Linked DNA regions of Homo sapiens: all the other regions are reported to be linked to region 2. The links are microRNA targets in miRTarBase. Many come from high-throughput screens and were not tested one by one. Region 2 holds a microRNA gene; each other region holds the end of a gene's coding sequence.

Region 1 (4,064 bases), not on the chromosome of region 2:
GTCCTCCTCTCTCCTGAGGCTGAATGCAGCTCTTGTGCCTTCAGTGCCAAGAATGCCACAGTCCCAGACCAGAGGAAGAGCTGATGTGGACGGTGGAAAAGGAGGGGGTGGGTGTAGAAGGAGAAGGCTGACAGCAAGGATTTCCTGAGGATAAACAAAAAAAATGTCACTTGAAACTGGCAAAAAAAAAAAAAAAAAAAAAAAAAAGTAAGGGTATAAAGAACAAGATGGAAATGGAAATCTTGTATAATTTCATTATGCAGTGTTTAATTTTAGGGTTTGGCACTTTCACGTATAACTTTTATACAATTATCATCATATACAACTTACGATTATTTTAAATGACTAGAGTTTAGTTTTTGATCTGGGTTAGCGTTCATAGTGCAAAGTTCTCTCGTTCCACTCAGTTAACCCCATTTTTTGGAGGGCTCTATGTCATTTTATTTTACTTACGAATCTTTAATTTTAACCTTTATTATAGATTAAAGGGTACACATACAGGTTTGTTACATGGGTAGATTTTGGAAGGCTGAGGCTTGGTGTCCCAATGATCTCATCACTCAAACAGTAAGCATGGTACCCAACAGGTGGTTTTTCAGCCCAGGTGCCCCTCCTGTCTCACCTGTCTAGTAATCTCCAGTGCCTCTGGTTCATGTGAATTCAATGTGTAGCTGCCACTTTCCAATGGGAACATGCAGTATGTAGTTTTCTGTTCTTGCATTAGGTTGCTTAGGATAATAGCCTCTAGTTCCATCCATGTTGCTGAAAAGGACATGATTTTGCTGTGTTTGGTGGCTGCATAGATTTCCATGGTGTTTATGTACCACATTTTTTTCATTCAATTCAGTGTTGCTGGGCACTTAGGTTGATTCTGTGTCCTTGCTAGTAAGAATAGCACTGTAATGAACATATTGGTGCAGGTGTCTTTTGGATAAAATGAATTCTTTTCCTGTGGATATATCCCGAGTAGTGGGATTGCAGGCTTGAATGGTAGTTCTATTTTAAGTTCTTGGAGAAATCTCCAAACTGCTTTCCATAGCGGCTGAACAAGTTTGCTTTCCCACCAACAGTGTCTGTTTCTTTTCCTCTGCAGCCTCACCACCATCTCCAACTTTGTGACTGGTAAGAGATGGTAACTCATTGCAGTTTTGATTTGCACTTATCTGATGATTAGTGATATTGAGCATTTTTTCACGTTTGTTGGCCACTTGTATGTCTTCTTTTGAAAAGTGTCTGTTCATGTCTTTGCACATTTTTTAATTGGGTTTTTTTTTCTTGCTTGTCTAATTGTTTAAGTACTTTGTAGATTCTGGATATTGGACCTTTGTCAGATGCAGAGTTTGCAAATAGTTTCCCCATTCTACACGCTGTCTGTTTACCGTGTTGCTAGTTTCTTTTTCTGTGCAGAAGCTCTTTAGTTTAATGAGGTCCCATTTGTCAATTTTTGTTTTTGTTACAATTGTTTTTAGTGTCTTCTTCATGAAATCTTTGCCAGGCCCTATGTCCACATTGGTATTTCTTAGCTTATATTCCAGGATTTTCACAGTTTTATTACCTGCGCAACATAGGAAGACCCAATCTCTACCTAAATATAAAACAATTTGCCAGGCATGGTGGCATGCGCCTGTAGTCCCAGCTACTCTAGAGGCTGAGTCTAGAGGATCACTTGAGCCCAGGAGTTGGAGATTACAGTGAGTGATGACTATGCCACTTCACTCCAATATGGTTGACAGAATGAGAAAATGTAAAAAAACTATAATGATAAAAAGGATTAATACAATTCTTGGTCAGTGCATGGAAAGGATCCCTGAGGTCTGAAGTCCTGCATGCTATTTTACTAGCAATACCGTTTCGAAGAATAAGGTCATGCTTCAGAGAAATGTCTGCTTTTCCACAATCAAAGAAGTAGAAAGAAAATGCCTTTTGCTGGGATTTCTTGTTCAGTTAAAACTTGTGCAGGAATTCCATCCATTAGCACCGAGAGAAAGTGGCAGAAGGTGTTAAGAAAAATGGCTGGCCGGGCGCGGTGGCTCACGCCTGTAATCCCAGCACTCTGGGAGGCCGAGGCAGGTGGATCATGAGGTCAGGAGATCGAGACCATCCTGGCTAACAAGGTGAAACCCTGTCTCTACTAAAAATACAAAAAATTAGCCGGGCGCGGTGGCGGGTGCCTGTAGTCCCAGCTACTCGGGAGGCTGAGGCAGGAGAATGGCGTGAACCCGGGAAGCGGAGCTTGCAGTGAGCCGAGATTGCGCCACTGCAGTCCGCAGTCCGGCCTGGGCGACAGAGCGAGACTCCGTCTCAAAAAAAAAAAAAAACAAAAAAAAAAAAAGAAAAATGGCTGCTGGGATCATGAGCGAAGGTAATGAGTGGCCTGAGATGTTGAGCCGACAATGTCCTCATCATCTGCTGGGGGCCTCTGGGCTTGCTAAGGCTTGAACTCCTGCTTTCCAGAAAGGCACAGTGGTGAGTAGACAGGCGGCCTCCCTGAAGGGAGAGCAGGAACCAGACCAGGCTAACAGAGGCTTCTTGATATCACCTTCCACCTTGAGGAAAGATGAAGCATTGGTTTAAGTGGCTGAGAAAAACCTGGGTCTGTTCTCCTGGGTGATCCTTCCCAGGCCCTCCCCATTTCAGAGCTTCTCCCCCAGATAAGGAACATGTTTTTCCCTCCAACCCTACCCCTGGCTGTGCAGCCTTTCCCAACCTCCACCCTCCTTCACCACACCACAGAGGCAGCCCAGGTCCTGTTACAGCCCATAGGGGCTCAGACCTGAGGCTGGTAATGAGGGGTCTGCACCCTCACTCAGGGCCTGCTCCTCCCTTTCATAGAAGGGTCTAGAGGACCTGGGGGAGCCCTGTCCAAAGAGAGGTCTCTGGATCCATGTTCCCTGGCCTTGGGTGGGTTTGTAGGCAAACCTTCTTTCTCCTTCGCTCTCAGCCTCTCCTCACCCTGGGAGCTGCACCCATAGCTCTGAATGGGACTGTCCCTGCCCTGCCCCATTCATTCCTGGCCAAGCTCAGTGGTGACCACGGACCTCTAGCAGCAGCTCAGCTGCCCTAGCTGAGTCCACTCTGCTCCAGGCAGGGCCATCAGCTGGCTCAGGATCTGGAGTGTGCACGAGGCAGAATGGCAGTGGCATCGTCCCAGGGCCTAGCCAGGAATCCCATGGGTCCAAGGGGCTCGGCCATTTCCTAAACCTCATCCTGGACACGCTCTACTCTTCACCTTCCACCTTAACTGCTGGGACTCAAGGTGCTCTCTCTGGGAATGCAGCCTTAGGAACTGGGTGGGCCAAGGCCCTCACAGCCCCCTCGTCCTGGGATTCCCCCAGGTTTCTCTCTTCTTAGCCTCCTCCAGGGACACCCCTTCCCTTGACATCCTTGGTGAAGTGGCCATGCTACTCCTCTCCTACTGTGCAGACTGCCCATGCCTGAGTTCCTGCTGCCTGCAGGCCACACACCACTACCCTTCCCAGATAGAAACCTGCTGTGAAATAGGCCTGAACTGTCTAAACCCTCTTGAACTCAACCGGCCCTGAGCCTTGATATGGGTCCCTCCCTTTCCCTCTGGCCCTGATGGTGAGAATCCATCAGAACTCAAGGTTGAGCTGCCCAGGTCATTGCAAACAGGCGACACCAGGTCTCATTCACCTGTCTCATGTCAGAACGAGAAGGTCCCGGCCATGGGGAGAGGTGGGACTCTGGAAATTCTCCTTTCCCTTCCTCCCACCTCACCCATCTGTCTCTCGTTCCCCTCACAGTTTTGCCCACAGTACCTGTCACTCTAAATGACTCTTCTCAGATGCCAGGGAGGATGAAGCAGAGGATGATGAGGAAGCTCCAGGGACTGAGGGTGGTGGCTATGGCTTTGGGTTGAGCTAAGCCTGGGGCCATGGTGGGTGGTGCTGAAAGGGAAACACAAAAGTGACAACTCTTGTCCACGCTCCAAATCTGAGGAGATGGCTCCTTAGCTCCTGCTACCCCAGGTCATCCGGGAAGGCAGAGGATTTGTCTCCCCTGCTGTGGGGCAGCCGCTGTGACAGGTCCTGGGGGTAGGAAGG
Region 2 (4,064 bases):
TCTGAAAATGCACTAGCAGTCTGAATCTCCAAGTGATTTTTAGACGTTTTGAAAAATCCAAGAAATTCTAAGACCACCACAGTTTGGAACCATGCCTTGAGTAATAGGCCTGGGATAGACATGAAATTCCTACACTGCATTTAATTAGGAGGTTTTGATCAGGGTTCCAACTGGCATTTGCAGCTGATGTTTGATTAAGAGAAAGTCCTGTCTCAAAATATGAGAAAACTTGAATAATAAAAGCACTGTGCCAATGGCTTTTCATGTATTTGTTTAGAACCTGCCTTGGTTCCAGGAAGGATTTAATGTGGATTTCTATCATTGCATGTGCTGTCTTCATCAATGGTTTAAAATATCAACCAGGGTGAAGATATAAGAGAGGAATATCGAATCATTGCTTAGAAGAAGACTTGAGCAGGCATCTCCTCCTCCTCCATCTAAGCTTCAAAAGAGGCCTCCCCTAACCAGACAGTCCAGTGAGATAATGAATTAATTAGAGACTTGGAAGGGTTAGCATGAGAGCCTTGTCTGTCTTGCCTCTGGCCCTCTGTCTGCTCGGCTAGATCCTGGTTAGGAGCTTTTGGCAGTCCTCAGGTTGGGGATGAGATACCTTGGCAGGCTTGAGTGGGCATCAAAGACACCAGGAAGGATCCCAGCCCAGTTTCTGGCAATTCTATCTGTCACTGGGTTTTATGCCTGTGTTCAAAATATTCCATTTCTCCATCTGTAAAATGGAGATAATCCTTCCTCACCTTGCAGGGATGTTGGGAGGATTAATTAGCTAGTGTTCCTCAAGTGCTTTGAAGATGAAAAGGCTTGTGGAAGTGCTAAGTATTAAGGCAAGGCAGCGAATGCCTGCTGGAAGTGCTCTTCCTTTCCTCATCCTCTTGTCAGCAGTTGTGTTTCTCTTGCCTTTTCTGCATATTTCACAGACCAAAGTGCTGGCATGGTAGGTAGGACAATGCATGGATCAGCACAGAACAAAGACAGTAATGCCTTATTTTATGCCTTGCTACTAACTTGGCTTATCAGTTGGCATGACCTCTGAAGATCTTTTTGCTCTGAATGTTTTAATCATCAAGTTCTGGTGGTTATCCAAGGTGATCCTAATCTACTTTGGGGTGGAGGGAGGAAGTGGTGTCAGGAGAGATCAAACCAGGCCACCTTGAGCTGAAAGCTCTGAAGGAGAAGGATTCCTTGAAATGGAGGTAATTTTTGAATTATAATAAGTGAGAAGACTGCAAGGGAGACAAGCTGAGGGACAAATGCTCTGTGCTTTTCTCCTCACTTTCACAAACAGGAGGAGAACTTCCACTGACCTAGCAGTAGTTTGCTCCTCCAGGCTGTCATGTCTTCTGATCATGTCTTTTATGAGGTGAATTTCTCCTCATGAAAGACTAGACTTTAAGGAGAGATTCTGTGCAGGTCCCTACAGTGTGGAGATGGATTGATTGGGCCTACAGATTGCAGCTAATCAATTCATCCTTTGCTTCCCAAAGGTTTATGCATTTGGGTGGAGTTCACAATGAGTGGTCTGGGTGCAGGGCCGTGTGGAGAAGCATGTCCACCGCTCTTGCCCCGGTGGCTTCTTTAGATAATCTTGCAATCTTCACAGGTTCTTTTCTAGGTATGTTATTGTTTGGAATAACTCCCTTGAGTTTGGAAGAAGAAAAGGAATAGTACCAGGTTTACTCAATCATTTGTTAGTTTGCTTGTTATCTTAAAAAATTCTATAAAATTCTTTTGAGAAGTTTCTCTGCTCATTGATCTTGAAAATCTCCTTGCTTTAGAGAATGGATGTGCTCCTCATATGCTAAGGATAAACCAGATTTTGGTAAATCAGGTTATCTTAGGGGTCCCAGGTGAGTTTGCCATTTTAACGATGCTTAGAGTGAATCCTTGTATAAGGGAAAGTATCTTGTATATTCTGTATCCTTTAGGAACTCACGTCTGTTGACTTTATCAGATGTTGGGGTGGTGGTGAGGCTAAAGACCAATAGGCGACATATGGCAGGATCTTCCCTCCAAGTGACCCTCTGGAAAGGGCTATACTTACTTAATTTTGGTGGAGCTCATCATAGGGTCAGGAAACCAGGGAGAAAGCTGAGCAACTGGTATTTATAGATCTTTCTCTTTAAATCAGGTTTGCTCATGATTTGTCTGGTCTTTATTCTTCTCCATGTCTGAAACTGAGTTCCTTGGATTCCCTTCTCTTCAAAGCCCTCTTGGCAACCTTCTGAGGAATGGCAGAGTTCATTCTGATCCACGTCCGGTGAGCGTAGCTCAACCGTGATGGAGCTTGACCTGTCAAATTCACAGAAAAATGTCCGTTACATATTCCAGCTGTTCCTTAAACATGCTCCCTAAGAGCTAGTTCCATTTGTTAGCTGTCAGAACGATGTGGAGGAATTGCTCCAGACCCTTGGATGTCATCAACCACTTTTGTTTATACACCAGTTATTTTCTCTATTAGCAAATCAATGTTTGGCAAAAAGAAAGCACAGGCTAAGAACTTTTCCTGATGAGTTGCTGCCCCAGCCTTGGAACTCTTCTCAGCCAAAAAAAAAAAAAAAAAAAAAAAAAAAAAAAAAAAAAAAAAAAAAAAAAGAAAGAAAGAAAGAAAGAAAGAAATTGAGGAGGAATTCAGTTTTACATGTTTTCCTTCCTGCTTACATGAACAGAGGAGGCCTACCTGAAGCTGAATCCAAGCACTGCCTTTGACGTTGGTAAAGATGGGGCTCTGAGCTCACATATCACCTTGGAAACTGGATCCTGTTACTGCTGGGAAAGGAATGCTTGGTTGCCAAAAGCATTAAGATAGGGAATGTGGATTCCACCTCTCAGTGCTCCTGCCTTGGATCAATTAGGTAGGATACTACCCAGAGATACAGACATGATGGACCAAGTAACTTCTCCAAACTTTGATTCTCTCTGGATCCCATGGATATGGGAACTGTGATGTCCAGGAGATCCAGAGAGAATCAGAGTTTCAGTGAGTGAAACCTAGAGTGTGTGCTGCTAGGATTTTCCTCATAAACCTGGGTGTTTTATTCTTGTGGGCCAGAAAGTTATTTCATTCCTAAACCCGTGATGTAGACTTCTCAGAAATTCCAGTGGTGTGGAGGATCCAGCTTCTATCAGCTCACAAGAGCTGATTGCACATATCTCTCCCCAACTGCTGTTCAGTGGCATCAAGTTGGTAGCTTGAAATCTGCCATGATGAGAGTATTTACACTATAGAAATTGGCAAATATGGCAAATAAGGGTCCCCACCACCCATGCTTGTGAAACATCTTCCAGCACACCAAGGAAATTATCCTAACACGTAACATCACTTATGGGGGCTGTTTAGCTTCAGGGGAGGAAATCCCCTTTGCTCTGATCTCATTGTGTGTACCTGCTTTGCATAGGCAGACTACCCCTTGTTCTCTCATCTATTAAACTCGACCTGAGAGAGAGCTTCATGAGATGGGTTGTGTGACAGGAGATCACTAGGGTAATGAGTCTGTTCCTTTCGCTGCTCAGCTATATGACAGGTTATTTTACCTCTCTAGGCCTCAGCTTCCTCTTCACTATAATAAAAGTAATTTAGATCATTAAATAATTGCTAAGTTTCCTTGTAGCTTCGACATTCTGCAATTTGATGAGTGCTTGGCTGCTGGAAAATGTCATGTGTTTCAAAGGCTTGGGGCACATGCACATCATTCACAGTGACCAGCTGAGCTCTCTCATTTTCTTTCTGGATCTTGGACTCCCAGTAATTCTACTTTTATCTGGACTTCTATCTTCAGCATGAATGAGCAGGGTGCCTCTAAGTGAGAAGCATAATTGATTAGTTCCTTCCATCTGGGGGTGTCAAAGCACTTTCAAGTCAGTAGTCAGTATCCATCATGGTTGCTCTGCAGGGAAGACTGCCTGAGAGTGCCTGTTTTGCAAGGGACATATCACAGTGGTGGACCAAGGACCCAGAATTATTGACTTGTCTTTTAATCAGAAAAGGGGCTACTTCCTGGTCTTAAAGAAGTTCCAGCTTTGAGATTAATCTGCTGTCTATAACCCCAGAT
Region 3 (4,064 bases), not on the chromosome of region 2:
GCGGGGGTGGGCCTTGTAGGATCAGATGCCGACATGGTGGCCCCCGGCTGCAGGACATCCGGAACACGGTGGGCAACGTGCCCTTGGAGTGGTACGATGACTTCCCCCACGTGGGCTACGACCTGGATGGCAGGCGCATCTACAAGCCCCTGCGGACCCGGGATGAGCTGGACCAGTTCCTGGACAAGATGGACGATCCTGACTACTGGTGAGGGCTGGTGGGGTGGGGCCAGCAGCCGGGGTGGGCCCGAGGGGTGGGGCAGGGCTGGCGGGGTCTGACTGGCGGTCTCCAGGCGCACCGTGCAGGACCCGATGACAGGGCGGGACCTGAGACTGACGGATGAGCAGGTGGCCCTGGTGCGGCGGCTGCAGAGTGGCCAGTTTGGGGATGTGGGCTTCAACCCCTATGAGGTAGGTGGCAGGGGCTGGCCCCTGGGCGGCGGGGGTCCTGGAGGCACCAGCAGGGCCTCAGCCACTCTGGCCCACACGCCCACATCTTCTCCCCCAGCCGGCTGTCGACTTCTTCAGCGGGGACGTCATGATCCACCCGGTGACCAACCGCCCGGCCGACAAGCGCAGCTTCATCCCCTCCCTGGTGGAGAAGGAGAAGGTGGGGCACACAGCCCCTGGGGCTTGGCCTGGGCTGACCGCCCCGCACTGCCCGTCCTGACCCGGCTGTCTATGCAGGTCTCTCGCATGGTGCACGCCATCAAGATGGGCTGGATCCAGCCTCGCCGGCCCCGAGACCCCACCCCCAGCTTCTATGACCTGTGGGCCCAGGAGGACCCCAACGCCGTGCTCGGGCGCCACAAGATGCACGTACCTGCTCCCAAGCTGGCCCTGCCAGGCCACGCCGAGTCGTACAACCCACCCCCTGAATACCTGCTCAGCGAGGAGGAGGTGGGCCTGCATCCTGGGGGCCGGGACCCTGTCCCCATGCTTCCCTGTGACCCTCCCCACCCCTGTGTCTTGGTCTCCACAGCGCTTGGCGTGGGAACAGCAGGAGCCAGGCGAGAGGAAGCTGAGCTTTTTGCCACGCAAGTTCCCGAGCCTGCGGGCCGTGCCTGCCTACGGACGCTTCATCCAGGAACGCTTCGAGCGCTGCCTTGACCTGTACCTGTGCCCACGGCAGCGCAAGATGAGGGTGTGTGGGGGTGGCACACCAGGGGGGTGGCACAGGGGGCAAGGCTGACCTGGCGCTCTCCTGCCCCAGGTGAATGTAGACCCTGAGGACCTCATCCCCAAGCTGCCTCGGCCGAGGGACCTGCAGCCCTTCCCCACGTGCCAGGCCCTGGTAAGTGGAGACTAGGGGGCTGGGGTTGCACCCTCCCAGTCTGACTCCTCACTGCCGCCGCCTCCTCAGGTCTACAGGGGCCACAGTGACCTTGTCCGGTGCCTCAGTGTCTCTCCTGGGGGCCAGTGGCTGGTTTCAGGTGGGTCCGAGCTGGGGGCAGCCTTGAGCTGGGGGGCAGGTGGGATGGCCAGGTGTTGAGAGCTGTCTCTGCCGCATCCAGGCTCTGACGACGGCTCCCTGCGGCTCTGGGAGGTGGCCACTGCCCGCTGTGTGAGGACTGTTCCCGTGGGGGGCGTGGTGAAGAGTGTGGCCTGGAACCCCAGCCCCGCTGTCTGCCTGGTGGCTGCAGCCGTGTAAGTGGAGGCCCTGGGGGCTGGGGAGCCAGGGGTGGCACTGTGCTTAGGGGCCGTGTCTGGGCCTGGCTCACAGGGAGGACTCGGTGCTGCTGCTGAACCCAGCTCTGGGGGACCGGCTGGTGGCGGGCAGCACAGATCAGCTGTTGAGCGCCTTCGTCCCGCCTGAGGAGCCCCCCTTGCAGCCGGCCCGCTGGCTGGAGGCCTCAGAGGAGGAGCGCCAAGTGGGCCTGCGGCTGCGCATCTGCCACGGGAAGGTACGTGGGGCGCCTTGGGGGTGAGGCTGCAGCGGGAGGGGCCCGGCTCAGCCACTCAGCCAGCCTTGCTCTCCTGCAGCCAGTGACGCAGGTGACCTGGCACGGGCGTGGGGACTACCTGGCCGTGGTGCTGGCCACCCAAGGCCACACCCAGGTGCTGATTCACCAGCTGAGCCGTCGCCGCAGCCAGAGTCCGTTCCGCCGCAGCCACGGACAGGTGCAGCGAGTGGCCTTCCACCCTGCCCGGCCCTTCCTGTTGGTGGCGTCCCAGCGCAGCGTCCGCCTCTACCACCTGCTGCGCCAGGAGCTCACCAAGAAGCTGATGCCCAACTGCAAGTGGGTGTCCAGCCTGGCGGTGCACCCTGCAGGTGAGGGGTGGGGGCGGTGCACCCTGCAGGTGAGGGGTGGGGGGGGGGGCGGTGTACCCTGCAGGTGAGGGGTGGGGGTAGGGGCAGTGCACCCTGCAGGTGAGGGGTGTAGGTGACGGGCAGGGCAGTGCACCCTGCAGGTGAGAGCGGGAACACCTGCATCACAGCCTTTGGCCCTAGGTGACAACGTCATCTGTGGGAGCTACGATAGCAAGCTGGTGTGGTTTGACCTGGATCTTTCCACCAAGCCATACAGGATGCTGAGGTGAGGAAAGCTGGGGGTGGAGGCGGCCAGCAGAGCCCCTCCCTTCAGCCCGAGCCTGCCTTCAACCTGGTTCCCTCCCCCCAGACACCACAAGAAGGCTCTGCGGGCTGTGGCCTTCCACCCGCGGTACCCACTCTTTGCGTCAGGCTCGGACGACGGCAGTGTCATCGTCTGCCATGGCATGGTGTACAAGTGAGTGCTGACCCTGCCTGGCCCCCTCCCCAGGGCAGTGGTGTCTGGCCGTGCCCTGAGCCCTCCTCGTCCCCACAGTGACCTTCTGCAGAACCCCTTGCTGGTGCCCGTCAAGGTGCTGAAGGGACACGTGCTGACCCGAGATCTGGGAGTGCTGGACGTCATCTTCCACCCCACCCAGCCGTGGGTCTTCTCCTCGGGGGCAGACGGGACTGTCCGCCTCTTCACCTAGCTGTTCTGCCTGCCTGGGGCTGGGGTGGTCGTGCTGAAGTCAACAGAGCCTTTACCCTGTGCTGCCTGGTGCTCCCACCTTCTTGAATTGGGGTTGCCAACAAAGCCGCCCCCACCACAGCGCCGAGCCTTCCCCTCACTCAATTTTGCAAAAACAGTGGGGACAACACAGCCAGTCCAGGGCACCCTCTGGCCCATCCCCTAAGAGGCTCAGCATCGCACCCTGTCAGTCACTCGCTGGGAGCAGATGAGTTTATTGGGCACATCCCTCACTGAAGGGCTTGGGTTTGGTCCCCAGCAGTGCCTGTTCTGGGGCCAGGCCCCTCCAGTCGTGTGCCCAGGCTGTGGTCCTCAGGAGGCCCTGTCTTGGAGCTCAGGCACAGGTCTGGGTGCATACTCCTCGCTGGGGGTGCTGGCCGGAGCCTTAGGCGAGCTTCACCAGGCGGCCCAGGGCCTCAGCAGCCCTCGTCCGCACCTCGGGGGCCGGGTCCTTCAGCAGGATCTGGAGCGCTGGGGGTAGAGGAGGGGGGCTGCCTGCGGGCTGTGACCTCGGCATGCCCATGCCTGCGCGTGGGCCACGCTCTCCTGACAGCCTCTGCTGGGAGGCTCAGGAGCCAACGGAAAGATCGTTTTTCCTTTTTTAGTGTTTTTTAAGCTCTTTTGGAACAGTTAAGAAGTTTCCGTGAATTACTAGAGACGATGAGGTCACCAGTGACAGGGAAAAAGTCCTGAAATCCAGGAAAATCACTTAGTCCCTGCGGGTGCCTACAGGGTCAGCAGGGCCCAGCGGAGGGGCCCCGTGGAGGGGTGCTCACCCGCAATGAGCTGGTCCAGGTCCACCTGCGGCTGCTGCCTGGGCTCCGAGTGCAGCACCAGGAACCCTGTGAAGTGGGGGCATCAGGCGGGGCTGCCGGGCGGCGTGGGGGTGGGGCAGGGGGTGGTGCTTACCGGTGAACAGGGGTGCAGCAGCTCGGACGTTCTCCCAGCTGCTCTTGAAGTAGAACAGGCAGGTGGTCAGGAGACGGCCCAGCAGGTCTGGGAAATGGTGCATCTGGGGAGAGGCCTGGTCAGTGCCGCCTGGCCCCGCCCCACCCACCACGCCCC
Region 4 (4,064 bases), not on the chromosome of region 2:
CTCGAGCCCCTTCCGCTGCAGCCCTCCCTGAGCCCAACGCTCCCTCCTCGCTGTCCGGCTCGAGCCCCTCCTGCTGCAGCCCTCCCCTGAGCTCAGCTCTCCCTCCTCTTCTCAGGTGCCTCCTACTTCTTCCGTGGCCAGGAGTACTGGAAAGTGCTGGATGGCGAGCTGGAGGTGGCACCCGGGTACCCACAGTCCACGGCCCGGGACTGGCTGGTGTGTGGAGACTCACAGGCCGATGGATCTGTGGCTGCGGGCGTGGACGCGGCAGAGGGGCCCCGCGCCCCTCCAGGACAACATGACCAGAGCCGCTCGGAGGACGGTTACGAGGTCTGCTCATGCACCTCTGGGGCATCCTCTCCCCCGGGGGCCCCAGGCCCACTGGTGGCTGCCACCATGCTGCTGCTGCTGCCGCCACTGTCACCAGGCGCCCTGTGGACAGCGGCCCAGGCCCTGACGCTATGACACACAGCGCGAGCCCATGAGAGGACAGAGGCGGTGGGACAGCCTGGCCACAGAGGGCAAGGACTGTGCCGGAGTCCCTGGGGGAGGTGCTGGCGCGGGATGAGGACGGGCCACCCTGGCACCGGAAGGCCAGCAGAGGGCACTGTCCGCCAGGGCTGGGCAGGCTCAGGTGGCAAGGACGGAGCTGTCCCCTAGTGAGGGACTGTGTTGACTGACGAGCCGAGGGGTGGCCGCTCCAGAAGGGTGCCCAGTCAGGCCGCACCGCCGCCAGCCTCCTCCGGCCCTGGAGGGAGCATCTCGGGCTGGGGGCCCACCCCTCTCTGTGCCGGCGCCACCAACCCCACCCACACTGCTGCCTGGTGCTCCCGCCGGCCCACAGGGCCTCCGTCCCCAGGTCCCCAGTGGGGCAGCCCTCCCCACAGACGAGCCCCCCACATGGTGCCGCGGCACGTCCCCCCTGTGACGCGTTCCAGACCAACATGACCTCTCCCTGCTTTCTAGCGGCTCGGCTGGGCTCCCTGGTGCTCCAGGGCCATGGGAGTGGGTACCCTCGGGCCTCAAGGGGCTTGACCCTGACCAGGGGCCCACGCACCTGCACTTGGGGTGGGGGCTTCCCAGGAGGTCTCGGCAGTCGCATTCCTCCTTGTTCATCAGCCCGTCCCGCGCTGTCTCTTCCAGTCCTCGTGCCCCGAGGAGTCCCCACGCCCCTGTCACAGATGGGAGAGTTGAGGCCCAGCGGGGGATGAGCCTCAGTGCTACAGGCAGGGGCATCACGGGCGGGCGGGGCGCCAGCTGGCCCAGTGAGATCTGAGTGTGGGAGGTGCCCGAGGAAAGGCATCAGTTGTTGGGTGAGCCACTTGGGACGCTGTCTGCCCCGCAGCACTAGACCATGATGCCCGGCCGAGCACCGGGACCTGGGTGCGCCCAAGAGGGAGGGTAGGTGCTCCCTGCGCAAGAGGGAGGGAGGGTGCTCCCTGCAAGGGGCTGATTCTAGCTCCAGCCACTCTGTCACTTGCTCCCTTTGCTCCCAGCCTCCAGATCCACAGCGGAGTCCCTCAGCCTGCCCCCACTCTGGCCGGCGAGTGACGCGTCTGTCCTGCAGTACCCTCTTGTTCAGAGGGTGCAGCCGATGCCACTCTGCAGGGCCCAGTCCTCCCGCTGGTGCACAGTCCTCTGGTCTCTGCGGCACAGACGCACCCCGGGCCACAGGTTCGGGGCCTCAGGCTCTGGCTCACCAGCATCTGCCCTGGGCTGTGGAGGGCCCGGGTGCCCCCTCAAACGTGACTCAGTGAGGATGAGGAGGTGGCCGTTGGACTGTGGGGGATTCACTCCCACATAGCAGGAAGTTCCTGACCACAGGCCCAGCATAGGGAGCGGCTGGGGCCACCCAGGGTGCAGATGAGGCTTCCTGGCACCCAGGAGCCAAAGCCCACAGCCCCCTTGTCCCATCCCAGGGATGGCACCCATCCCAGGATGAGGCTGCCAGGGCCGGGCAGGCAGGCCCCAGGCCAGGCCTCATGGAGCCGGGCCACCTCCCCGTGAAGAGAGGCCACATCCTCATGGAGTCCAGCCGTGTCCTCTGTCCCCCGCCTGTTCACCATCTGCTCCCTGGAGCAGGAGGAGTCCCTGCCTGTCAGACCAGTCTGTGGAAAGACCGACCTCCCTCCTGTCTGTCGGGGACACTGGCTCTGCCCTGCACCAAGTGGTGTTTCCTCATCACGCTTTGTTGCCCAGCAGCCTGTGGGGTGAATTCCCCCGTGCAGCTGGCCCAGCCCCGTGGTCCCCACGTCCTGGGTCGTGCCCCAGTGCAAAGCCGGCTGTGGGCCTTGTCTGCTGAGTCGGGCTCTCACGTTGGCAGGGCTCACTGCGGTTTTGAAGTCCAAACTCTCCGTCATAAGCCTCTTCTGCCGGTCCTATCTCTGGTGAAGAGGTGAACCGTAGGCGGGGCAGGGGGGCTGCTCTGAACTTGCCTCTCCATGCTGCAGCCCACCTCCCTCTGGCAGTGGGGTGGCCGTGCTGGGTCCTGGGGCAGGGCCTGGAGCCCCGCCAGCCCATGACGCATTTCATGAGCCCCCACCTTTTGATATGCACATGCAGCTGAGGCTACCCTGACCCCACATTCAAAGTCGGAAATCCCCAAAACCCAAGACCTTTTGAGCACTGATGGGCTCGGGGTGCACACAGAACATTTGGGATTTCACTTTTTTTTTTTTTTTTTTTTTTTTTGAGACAGAGCCTGTCGCCCAGGCTGGAGTGCAGTGGTGAGATCTCAGCTCACTGCAACCTCCGCCACCCAGATTCAAGTGATTCTCCTGCCTCAGCCTCCCGAGTAGCTGGGATTACAGGCAGGCACCACCACGCCTGGCTAATTTTTGTATTTTTAGTAAAGACAGGGTTTCAGCATGTTGGTCAGGCTGGTCTCGAACTCCTGACCTCAGGTGATCCACCCGCCTCAGCCTCCCTGAGGTGAGGCTAGGATTACAGGCATGAGCCAACACACCTGGCCAAGTGGCAGTATTTGAAAAAAGAAAAGCAGAGAAAAATGCTCAACCTGTAAGTATAATGCAAATATAGTGTCCAAACTCCAAACAATCTGAGCTCCAAAACACTTTTCTGGTCCTGCGCGTCTCGGATGAGGAACACGCGGGCAGGGCGTGTTGTTTTGTGGAAAGGATCTCATGTTCATAGAAAGCTGCACCCGCAGCATGAGAGTCCTCTGCATCCTTTGGGAGGCGCTGACCACCCTGAGCTCGCTTCTGTGTCTCCTGGAACGCAGGTGTCCTCCCAAGGTCAGAGTTGGGAAAGACACGCAGCCAGTGGATCTCAGATCAGAGGATGCTGCAGGGACAGACCTCACCCAGGGCAGCCTTCTTTGGCCCGGCACAGCTCCCGGGCCTTCCCCGACCCCTGTGACCTCGCACCTATGAGGGCTGCCGGCCCGTCCTTCTGTGGTCCATGCCCCCGGCCTGTCCGCCTGCACCTTCCTCGTGATGGGACCTCGGTTCTGTGTCTTCAGCAGGCAGTTTTCCATCTTCGCCTGAGTCACCATCTAAACACCTGGAGACTTCACGTGACGTTCTGGATTTTCAGAGTCACTGCTTATACCTCAGGCTGTGCTGGCCCAACTTGGAGAAGCTGTGCCCCCAGGCCCAGGAGGCAGGGCATCGCCAGCCCACAGCCACAGTCAAAACCCTCCGAAGGAGGTCAGAGGACCCACGCCACCCCAGTGAGGGGCAAGGACCTCTTCCCTTCTTCCTTCCACCCCAGGGAGGTCAGCCTGGAGGCCCAGGGTCTCTCTTGAGCCACACGGCCGGGCCAAGGCACTGGCTGCCCTTAGCGTGACCCAGGCTTTTGACCAAAAACACACAGCCCCATGGGTGCTATACAACGCCTCTGCATGGGAGACCTCCGAGGCCAGGACACACCCTCTCCAGCTCCCATGATACAGGAAGGGAAACTGAGGCACGGTGTCTTAGCTCAGCTTGCCGTGACAGGCTGCTGTAGACCATGCGGCTTCCACATGGGTGACCTCTGAGGCCAGGACACACCCTCTCCAGCTGCCGTGTTACAGGGAGGGAAACTGAGGCACGGTGTCTTAG

The links. Region 2 holds the annotated microRNA hsa-miR-4768-3p (CCAGGAGAUCCAGAGAGAAU, at 2,963-2,982, shown strand). A microRNA usually pairs through its seed, bases 2 to 8, with sites in the 3' UTR of a target mRNA and lowers its output. Matches are read on the target gene's strand: a 7mer-m8 pairs with bases 2 to 8, a 7mer-A1 pairs with bases 2 to 7 and ends in A, and an 8mer does both.
Region 1: miRTarBase lists ULBP3 as a target of hsa-miR-4768-3p. Seed matches in the 3' UTR shown: 7mer-m8 at 2,202-2,208 and 8mer at 2,084-2,091.
Region 3: miRTarBase lists MROH1 as a target of hsa-miR-4768-3p. Seed matches in the 3' UTR shown: 7mer-A1 at 3,312-3,318.
Region 4: miRTarBase lists MMP17 as a target of hsa-miR-4768-3p. The part of its 3' UTR that is shown has no 7-base or 8-base seed match.

The regions. Positions count from the first base shown.
Region 1 is chr6:150,060,806-150,064,869 of GRCh38, forward strand. ULBP3 (UL16 binding protein 3) reads right to left here. Exons shown (of 5, transcript NM_024518.3): 4 at 3,780-3,908; 5 at 248-2,546. The coding sequence ends at 3,802. Among named protein-coding and RNA genes, the nearest start is that of ULBP3, 6.3 kb to the right of the region's middle.
Region 2 is chrX:17,422,965-17,427,028 of GRCh38, forward strand. MIR4768 (microRNA 4768) reads left to right here and starts at 2,917; the gene lies at 2,917-2,990. All of the region lies in intron 1 of NHS (NHS actin remodeling regulator), which reads left to right.
Region 3 is chr8:144,261,061-144,265,124 of GRCh38, reverse strand. MROH1 (maestro heat like repeat family member 1) reads right to left here. Exons shown (of 44, transcript NM_032450.3): 42 at 3,909-4,011; 43 at 3,776-3,841; 44 at 3,199-3,470. The coding sequence ends at 3,385. It overlaps BOP1 (BOP1 ribosomal biogenesis factor), which reads left to right. Exons shown (of 16, transcript NM_015201.5): 4 at 54-208; 5 at 294-411; 6 at 509-610; 7 at 688-900; 8 at 983-1,144; 9 at 1,214-1,294; 10 at 1,364-1,433; 11 at 1,515-1,647; 12 at 1,724-1,904; 13 at 1,984-2,272; 14 at 2,453-2,537; 15 at 2,622-2,729; 16 at 2,808-3,080. The coding sequence ends at 2,961. It overlaps MIR7112 (microRNA 7112), which reads left to right and starts at 2,388; the gene lies at 2,388-2,452.
Region 4 is chr12:131,850,810-131,854,873 of GRCh38, forward strand. It overlaps MMP17 (matrix metallopeptidase 17), which reads left to right. Exons shown (of 10, transcript NM_016155.7): 10 at 116-962. The coding sequence ends at 465. Among named protein-coding and RNA genes, the nearest start is that of MMP17, 24 kb to the left of the region's middle. RefSeq lists an enhancer at 638-807.